2 linked regions of the Homo sapiens genome follow. The protein of the gene in region 2 purifies or fractionates together with the protein of the main gene of each other region. This does not show direct contact. Each region holds a gene or a part of one and is shown on either strand. Other genes may lie near its edges.

Region 1 (3,823 bases), on a different chromosome or scaffold from region 2:
ATGTGCATATATATAAAACGCTCATCCCCTGCCCATATCCAGGGAGGTGGGGGAGAGTCAGGGCCCTAAAGAGAACAGGTATCTATTTCTAAAAAAGCACTGAAAGGCTGGGCACGGTGGCTCATGCCTGTAATCCCCGCACTTTGGGAGGCTGAAGTGGGCGAATCATGAGGTCAGGAGTTCAAGACCAGCCTGGCCAACATGGTAAAACCCTATCTCTACTAAAAATACAAAAAATTAGCCAGGCATGGTGGCACGTGCCTATAGTCCCAGCTACTTGGGAGGCTGAGGCAGGAGAATTGCTTGAACCCGGGAAGCAGAGGTTTCAGTGAGCCGAGATCGTGCCACCCACTCTAGCCTGGGTGATAGAGCGAGACTCTGTCTCAAAAAAAAAAAAAAAAAGCACTGAGAAAGAAAAGTTAATATTTTCTCACATATTTATGCTGGAATTAGAGACTATCTGTCATCACTTGTCACATATCTCACATTTGCTACGAGCATCCTAATAACAAAGATGGAAGAGCTTTCTTCCTACTGAAGGAAAGATGAATCTATGATAGAGAACTTGTTACTTAAATCTTTCAAGAATTCTTTTTTAAAATTTGTAAGATTTTAGTTTTTTTGCAAACATATTCTGCTTATGTAAAGACTTCTTTGCAAAAGGGAAAATAATTCCCTAACATGTGTGTTTGGTATAAAAAACATAACACAAGGTCTGGGCTAGTCATACTATGAAATGCTATCTGCATGTTCTGAGGATGGTTAAGAAACCCAAAGAACAGGTGGAATGACAATGTACATGAATATTCTCTTTTACTTGATTTTGCCAACTAGATCTGTACTCACAAAGAAAGCGATAGACTCTGCTTTTCAATTTAAAAAATATCTCAACACTTACCTTTTAAGAAATCAAATCATGTAACTTCAGAACTTGTAAGGGCTGTCAGAGATTATGATGCCTAAGACTTCTACTTACAAGTGAGGAAACTAAGGGTTAGAGGCATTACTTACGTGGTGACAAAAATGGTTACCACATTAAATAACATTAAATAGAAAAATATTCCACAATATTACATTTTAATTAATTATTCTGACTAGTCAAGAAAAAAGTCTCAGTCCAGTTCTAGTATGCTTTTAAAAGTTCTTTAAAGCCAGGCATGGTGGCTCATGCCTGTAATCCCAGCACTTTGGGAGGCCAGGGCAAGTGGATCACTTGATCTTAGGAGTTTGAGACCAGCCTGGGCAACATAGTGAGATCCCACCTCTACAGAAAAGTTAAAAATTAGCTAGGTGTGGTGGCATGTGCCTGTAGTCCCAGCTACTGGGGGAGGGGGCGCTGAGGCAGGAGGATCACTTGAGCCAAGGAGGTTGAGGCTGCAGGGAGCCCTGCACTCTAGCCTGGGTGACAGAGTGAGATCCTGTCTCAAAAACCAAACAAAATTAAAAAAATACAAAAAACAATCCCCCCAAAAAGCCTCTTTAAGATTTGCTAATCTTCCCTTTTAACAAAGACAAAGCAGACTTTTAAAGAAAAACACTAAATGATGGCGTAACAGGTGGCATAAAGATAGGATGAAAATCCTTACACTGGTACGCAAATGCCTGAAAGTTGGGAAACAGTGCATTGGTTTACATAAAAACTTGAATTGGCCAAACTATCTAATATCCCATTAAATCTTTTAAAAGACTTGCCCTCTAACTTAGCAATTTTAAGAAAGGATACTACACACTATAATGCATTGACCTGTCTTAATTGTACTATTTTGGTATCTTATCAAATTATTTTAAATATTATCACTTAAATTAGCAATAATAGCATTTTAAAATCCTGCTAATAAATAATATGCTGAAATTATTCCTCTTACTACATAGATAATATTCATCAAACCACAAAATGTTGTATATTAATACAAATAAGCTAAAGAAAAATCATACCATCTGTCTTTGAATGACTTGAAATATGGAAATCACATCCTTTTCCAACTTCTATTGCAGTTTCTCTTACTTCAGAGTTATTTCCTGCCAAAAAGAAAGCTTTTTAAAATTAAACTGAACCACTCTTAAATAAAATGTCTAATCACACATAATTTAAGAAGGTAGCAGTACATAATATTTTAGAACAAACAAAATACAACATGCTGGGGATATAGGAACACTAAAACAAAGGACAAGAACAGATAAAAATCTGAGACTAGAAAAAGACTTACTATATCATTGATAAGCTCCAACTTATGCACCAAATATAGATGAGAGATAATGTAGTCTACTATAGCATTCAATTCACACTAAGAGAATAAGTGGGTGAATGACATTAGAACTTAGAAAAGGATCTGCTCTCTTATGACACTGGGTATTTCCAGAGGCCCGCTGCTTTTCACTAGCCACAATCAAACTCAAGTGGCACTGGCTCCCCCAAAACATTTGCTTCCACTTCAGGAACCTGTAGTCAACAGATGGCAAAAAGGAAACTGGGAAAAACCTCTCAAGAATGACTGTTAGAGGCTTACACATACTTTGCCAATTTCCACATACCATGCCTTCTATCAAGCAACTGAGATACCAAGAATAAAGAGAATGTGGGATGATGAATTTACATAGAAGACTTTAACAAAGTCTACTTGTGAATCAAGATGACTAAAGGATATCTAAACTTACTATATAACGTATGTTTTAATCTCAAATCCTTTTTGGAAATGGCAGAGAATAAATAAATGCTATCTTACATAAGAGAAAAGAACAATGGTCTTAAATCCCAGATGATTACCTTGAACTGTTGACTACAGCATCTCGAAAGTTTTTTCTTTTTTTTTTTTTAAACAGAGTCTTGCTCTGTTGCCTAGGCTGAAGTGCAGTGGCATAATCATGGCACACTGCAGCCTTGAACTCCTGAGCTCATGCAATCCTCCCACCCCAGCCTCCCAAGGTGCTGGGACTATAGGCTGCTCTGCCCGGCTAATTTTTTTGTAGAGCTAGGGTTTTGCTATGTTGCCTAGGCTTGTCTCAACCTCCTGGGCTCAAGCAATCCTCCTGCCTCAGCCTCTGAAAGTACTGGCATTACAAGCATGAGCCACTGCCTGGCCTGTATTTTAAGGCTCTCATCCTGTGGTCCTGTTTGTTGTTCCACTGCAACAGGCCAAAGACAGAGGAACAGTGAAAAATCCACGTCTACAGAGAATGAGAGACAACAGACACTAGAGCTATGACTTAGCAGAAGCCCAGGAGCCTTTGGCCTCTGAGTAGGCTATGTCATGCGCCTTCAAGGACAGGGATCCTTGGAGTTACGCCTATAGTGTGATAACTGGTCCTTATCAGGACTGTTTTAGGAAGGCTTTCTGTGCCCTTTGAAAGAACATTTATTTAGAGTTTGGGATGTTGTCTTCACCTGAATAAGGAATGGAGGTAAAAGGAGCTTTATCCTCTTTTCTCCACTTTTCACTCATCTATCAACACACATCCTGGTTTATAGTAGCTTTCAGTTCTGTTGCTGACATGGTCCACAGATGGGTTCACCTTGTGATAATTATTCAAACAGTCCTCCATGCCCATATAAATACTGCTGATAAAGCACTAGCATGAGGTTTGTAAAGTAATTTAAGAGACTCTCAGGGTTACCATCTTTAATTTTAGTCTTGGGCATTTAGTTTTCAGGTTAATCCTGGCATAAAACTGTTGGAACAAGTACTGAGATACAACATACCAAAAAGCCATGCAGTTGCCATAGCATTGCTTCAACTTTATTATTCTTCATAAAAGTAAGAGTCAAATGAAGTTCAAAGAAAAATCAAGCTGTCACACGAGAGTCAGGAATAATATATTAAAATGT
Region 2 (3,823 bases):
TCACGAGGTCAGAAGATCCAGACCATCCTGGCTAACACAGTGAAACCGCGTCTCTACTAAAAATACAAAAAATTAGCCGGGTGTGGTGGCACACACCTGTAATCCCAGCTACTCGAGAGGCTGAGGCAGTGGAATAGCTTGAACCCGGGAGGCAGAGGTTGCAGTGAGCGGAGATCGCACCACTGCACTCCAGCCTGGGTGACAGAGCGAGACTCCATCTCAAAAAAAAAAAAGTTCTTCCAGCTAAAACCTTTATTTTTTGACTACATCTCCACAAAATGGAGCTATACTGTTAGCCAGTATCCTAATAGTATAGTGCAGTTTGCATAATGATTACCAAGCTTGAAACTGGAAATGTCATATGCACTTTCGTGTGTATCAGGCAGATACTAAACATTTTCCCCTTGAGTCAGCTTAAAATTTTTCCTTCTTTTGAAATCTCACGCAGTTGTTTTCTGGAGAAAAATAGAGACTGTTTTAGTATTTGTTCTTATTAGCGTATCATCAGAACTCAGCACAGTCTGCCTTATAAGAAAACAAAAAATTTTTTTATTTATAACTCTTGAGATTGTTACTTCTTGCTCTTTCTGATTTCCCATCCGTAAAGTGGGTGTAAGCAATACTTACCTCACAGGGGTGTTGTGAGGATTTATATTAAACGTGTTAAGTTCTCTCAGTATTATTGATTAAAATCAACCATATAAACGACATTTATTCTGTAGCTAGACCTATTAACTTTAGTATTTCAGCCTATAAATTCTAAAATGTTCTTAAAAGCAGTAATGTACTATCTAATATTCAATAACTAATTGACAGAACTCATTGTTATTTTTTACAAATAACTAGAAACAATACTGTTGCTAGAATTCCTGTTCTACTGTAATTTAATCATCACTGTTTCTTTTTAGCCTTCAGTAAGGAGGATACTAGTTCTTTGGCATTATTGGGAATAAAACTTTGTCAATTTCAGCTTTATTGAAAGTTCTCCCAAATATATTGTTTTTGTTTACACAAAGGAAAAGGAACAAAAACAATAAATAAATACCTTTGTTTTTTTTTCTTTTTTGAGACGGAGTCTCGCTCTGTTGCCCAGGCTGGAGTGCAGTGGTGCGATCTCGGCTCACTGCAACCTCCGCCTCCCAGGTTCAAGCGATTCTTCTTCCTCAGCCTCCCGAGTAGCTGGAACTATAGGCACGCACCACCACACCCAGCTAATTTTTGTATTTTTAGTAGAGATGGGGTTTCATCATGTTGGCAAGGCTGGTTTCGAACTCCTGACCTTGTGATCTGCCTATCTCAGCCTCCCAAAGTGCTGGGATTACAGGTATGGGCCACTGGGCCCAGCCTATTTTTATTTCTTTGATGTAGGTGATCTAAATAGTAGATGAGGACAGGAAATGGGGTGAAGGTAATAATAGTATTATTAGAAAAGTCTTCACTGAAAATTGAAGGAAATACATATTAATCGTGGAAAAAGATAGTGTGAAAAATGTGTAATTTCGTTAACATTTATTTGTACAGGCACATTCTTGATGTTGTGAGTCAGATACTTGATAAATGTCCATTTTTTGTAGTAATTGATGTAAAAATGGGCCATGTGAAGAATTTTCATAATGTAATTTGTGTCTTTGTATATTTTGAACTACATATAGATTTGTGGCACTTAAATTATTAATTTTTGATTTCTTAAGAGTGAAGTCTGTAAATGATTTCTCTCTGCTGTACTTCTGTGTTTGTATGGTTGGACATTTTGAAAACTGGTGAGATTGCACAGTCCCAAACCTGGATGTCTTAAATACAAGGAATTACAAACTGTGATTTTTGTCTTGAAGACCTGGAAGAATTCATTGTGCTTCAGTATGTATTTGTACTGCACTTGATTAATTAGTTAAGTATTGGTCTGGTGCAATTGACATTAACTGTCATCAACTCCTCTATTTTGTGCTAAATAAAGTCATTTAGTCAGAATGGATCAAATATAAACTTATACTTTAAAATAAACTTAGATTATAAAAACTTGTTCAATAAAAAAGACCCACTGAAAAATCTTCAAAGTACATGTAACACATAGCTAATACAGGAGACCAAAATCAATAATACATTGTGTGGCTAAACTCATCCACCTAATGTACTGTGAATTTGCTTCAGAAACATTCTTTTAGAAAGTTGTGTATCTGCCGGGCATGGTGCCTCATGCCTGTAATCCCAGCACTTTGGGAGGCCAAGGCCCAGGAGTCCGAGACCAGCCTGGGCAATATAGTGAGACCTCATCTCTGCCAAAAATTTTGGCCAGGGGCAGTGGCTCACGCCTGTAATCCCAGCACTTTGGGAGGTCGAGGTGGGCGGATCACCAGAGGTCAGGAGTTCAAGATCAGCCTGGCTAACATGGCGAAACCCTGTCTCTACTAAAAATACAAAAATAAGCCAGGTGTGGTGGTGCGCGTCTGTAGTCCCAGCTACTTGGGAGGCTGAGACAGAATCATTTGAACCCGGGAGATGGAGGTTGCAGTGAGCCGAGATTGCGCCATTGCACTCCAGCCTGGGCGACAGAGTGAGACTCCGTCTCAAAAAAAAAAAGGCAGGGTGTGGTGGCTCACACCTGTAATCCCAGCACTTTGGGAGGCCAAGGCGGGCGGATTATGAAGTTAGGAGATCGAGACCATCCTGGACAACATGGTGAAACCCTGTCTCTAGTAAAACACAAAAAATTAGCTGGGTGTGGTGGCACGTGCCTGCAGTCCCAGCTACTAGGGGGGCAGAGGCAGAGGAATTGCTTGAACCCGGGAGGCGGAGGTTGCAGTGAGCCGAGATTGCGCCACTGCACTCCAGCCTGGCGACAGAGCAAGAAACAATGAATTTCATATATTTTATCAAGACAAATTAATGTGACTTAATCAAAAACAAGTTTATTAGCTTAGCTTATAGAATGTGTTCTTATTTTACATCAGTGTTTGCCAAATGTTGTGTTCCTAGTGTTGAGGCAAGTAGTCTTTGTACTGGGTAACATTTTGGAGGTGTGATGCAAAAATGCATTTGTGGACCTAATTCTTACCGACCATAATCTGTGTTAATCGAAAATTGACGTCCTAATCAAATGCTTTCCAACTGCTGTCTCTGGAAAGAAAGGTAGTATTTCGTCATTTCCCAGAAGTTTCTTGCTTTGCTTCTTCTTTTTTTTTTTTTTTTTTTTTTTTGAGATGGAGTCTTGCTCTGTTGCCCAGGCTGGAGTACAGTGGAGTGATCTCGGCTCACTGCAACCTTCACATCCCAGGTTCAAGCTATTCTCCTGCCTCAGCCTCCCGAGTAGCTGAGATTACAGGTTCCCACCACTACACTCGGCTAATTTTTTGTATTTCTAGTAGAGACGGAGTTTCACCATGTTGGCCAGGCTGGTCTCGAACTCCTGACCTTGTGATTCACCTGCCTCAGCCTCCCAAAGTGCTGGGATTACAGGCGTGAGCCACCGCGCCCAGCTGCTTCTTTCTTCTCTATTTACAGTCTACTGTATCGCCTTTTGCCCCCAGTAACATGATCCACAATAGTAGTTCTCAACTGAGGTATATTAGTCAGGATTCTCCAGAAAAAGAAAGAAACAACAGGTAGAACTGAGAGAGAGAAAGAGATTGATTGATTATAAGGAATAGGTTCATGTAATTATGGAGGCTGAGAAGTCCCAAGATCTGCAGTTGGGAGGCTGAGAGGCTGGGGAGTCAGTGATGTTCCAATCTGAATTTGAAGACCTGAGAACCAGGAGAGCTTATGGCATAAGTTCCAGTCCAAAAGCTGGCAGGCTTGAAACTCAAGAAGAGCTGATGTTTCCATT

Evidence for each region.
Region 1: the proteins of ZBTB25 (region 2) and POC5 purify together in Homo sapiens (co-immunoprecipitation; one large-scale study listed by IntAct). This does not show direct contact.

What each region holds. Positions count from the first base shown.
Region 1 is NC_000005.10:75,703,769-75,707,591, forward strand, and holds part of POC5 (centrosomal protein POC5), read right to left. Parts: intron 2,020-3,823; coding exon 1,936-2,019; intron 1-1,935. UniProt on the Homo sapiens protein: Essential for the assembly of the distal half of centrioles, required for centriole elongation. Acts as a negative regulator of centriole elongation.
Region 2 is NC_000014.9:64,479,694-64,483,516, reverse strand, and holds part of ZBTB25 (zinc finger and BTB domain-containing protein 25), read left to right. Parts: 3' UTR 1-3,823. UniProt on the Homo sapiens protein: May be involved in transcriptional regulation.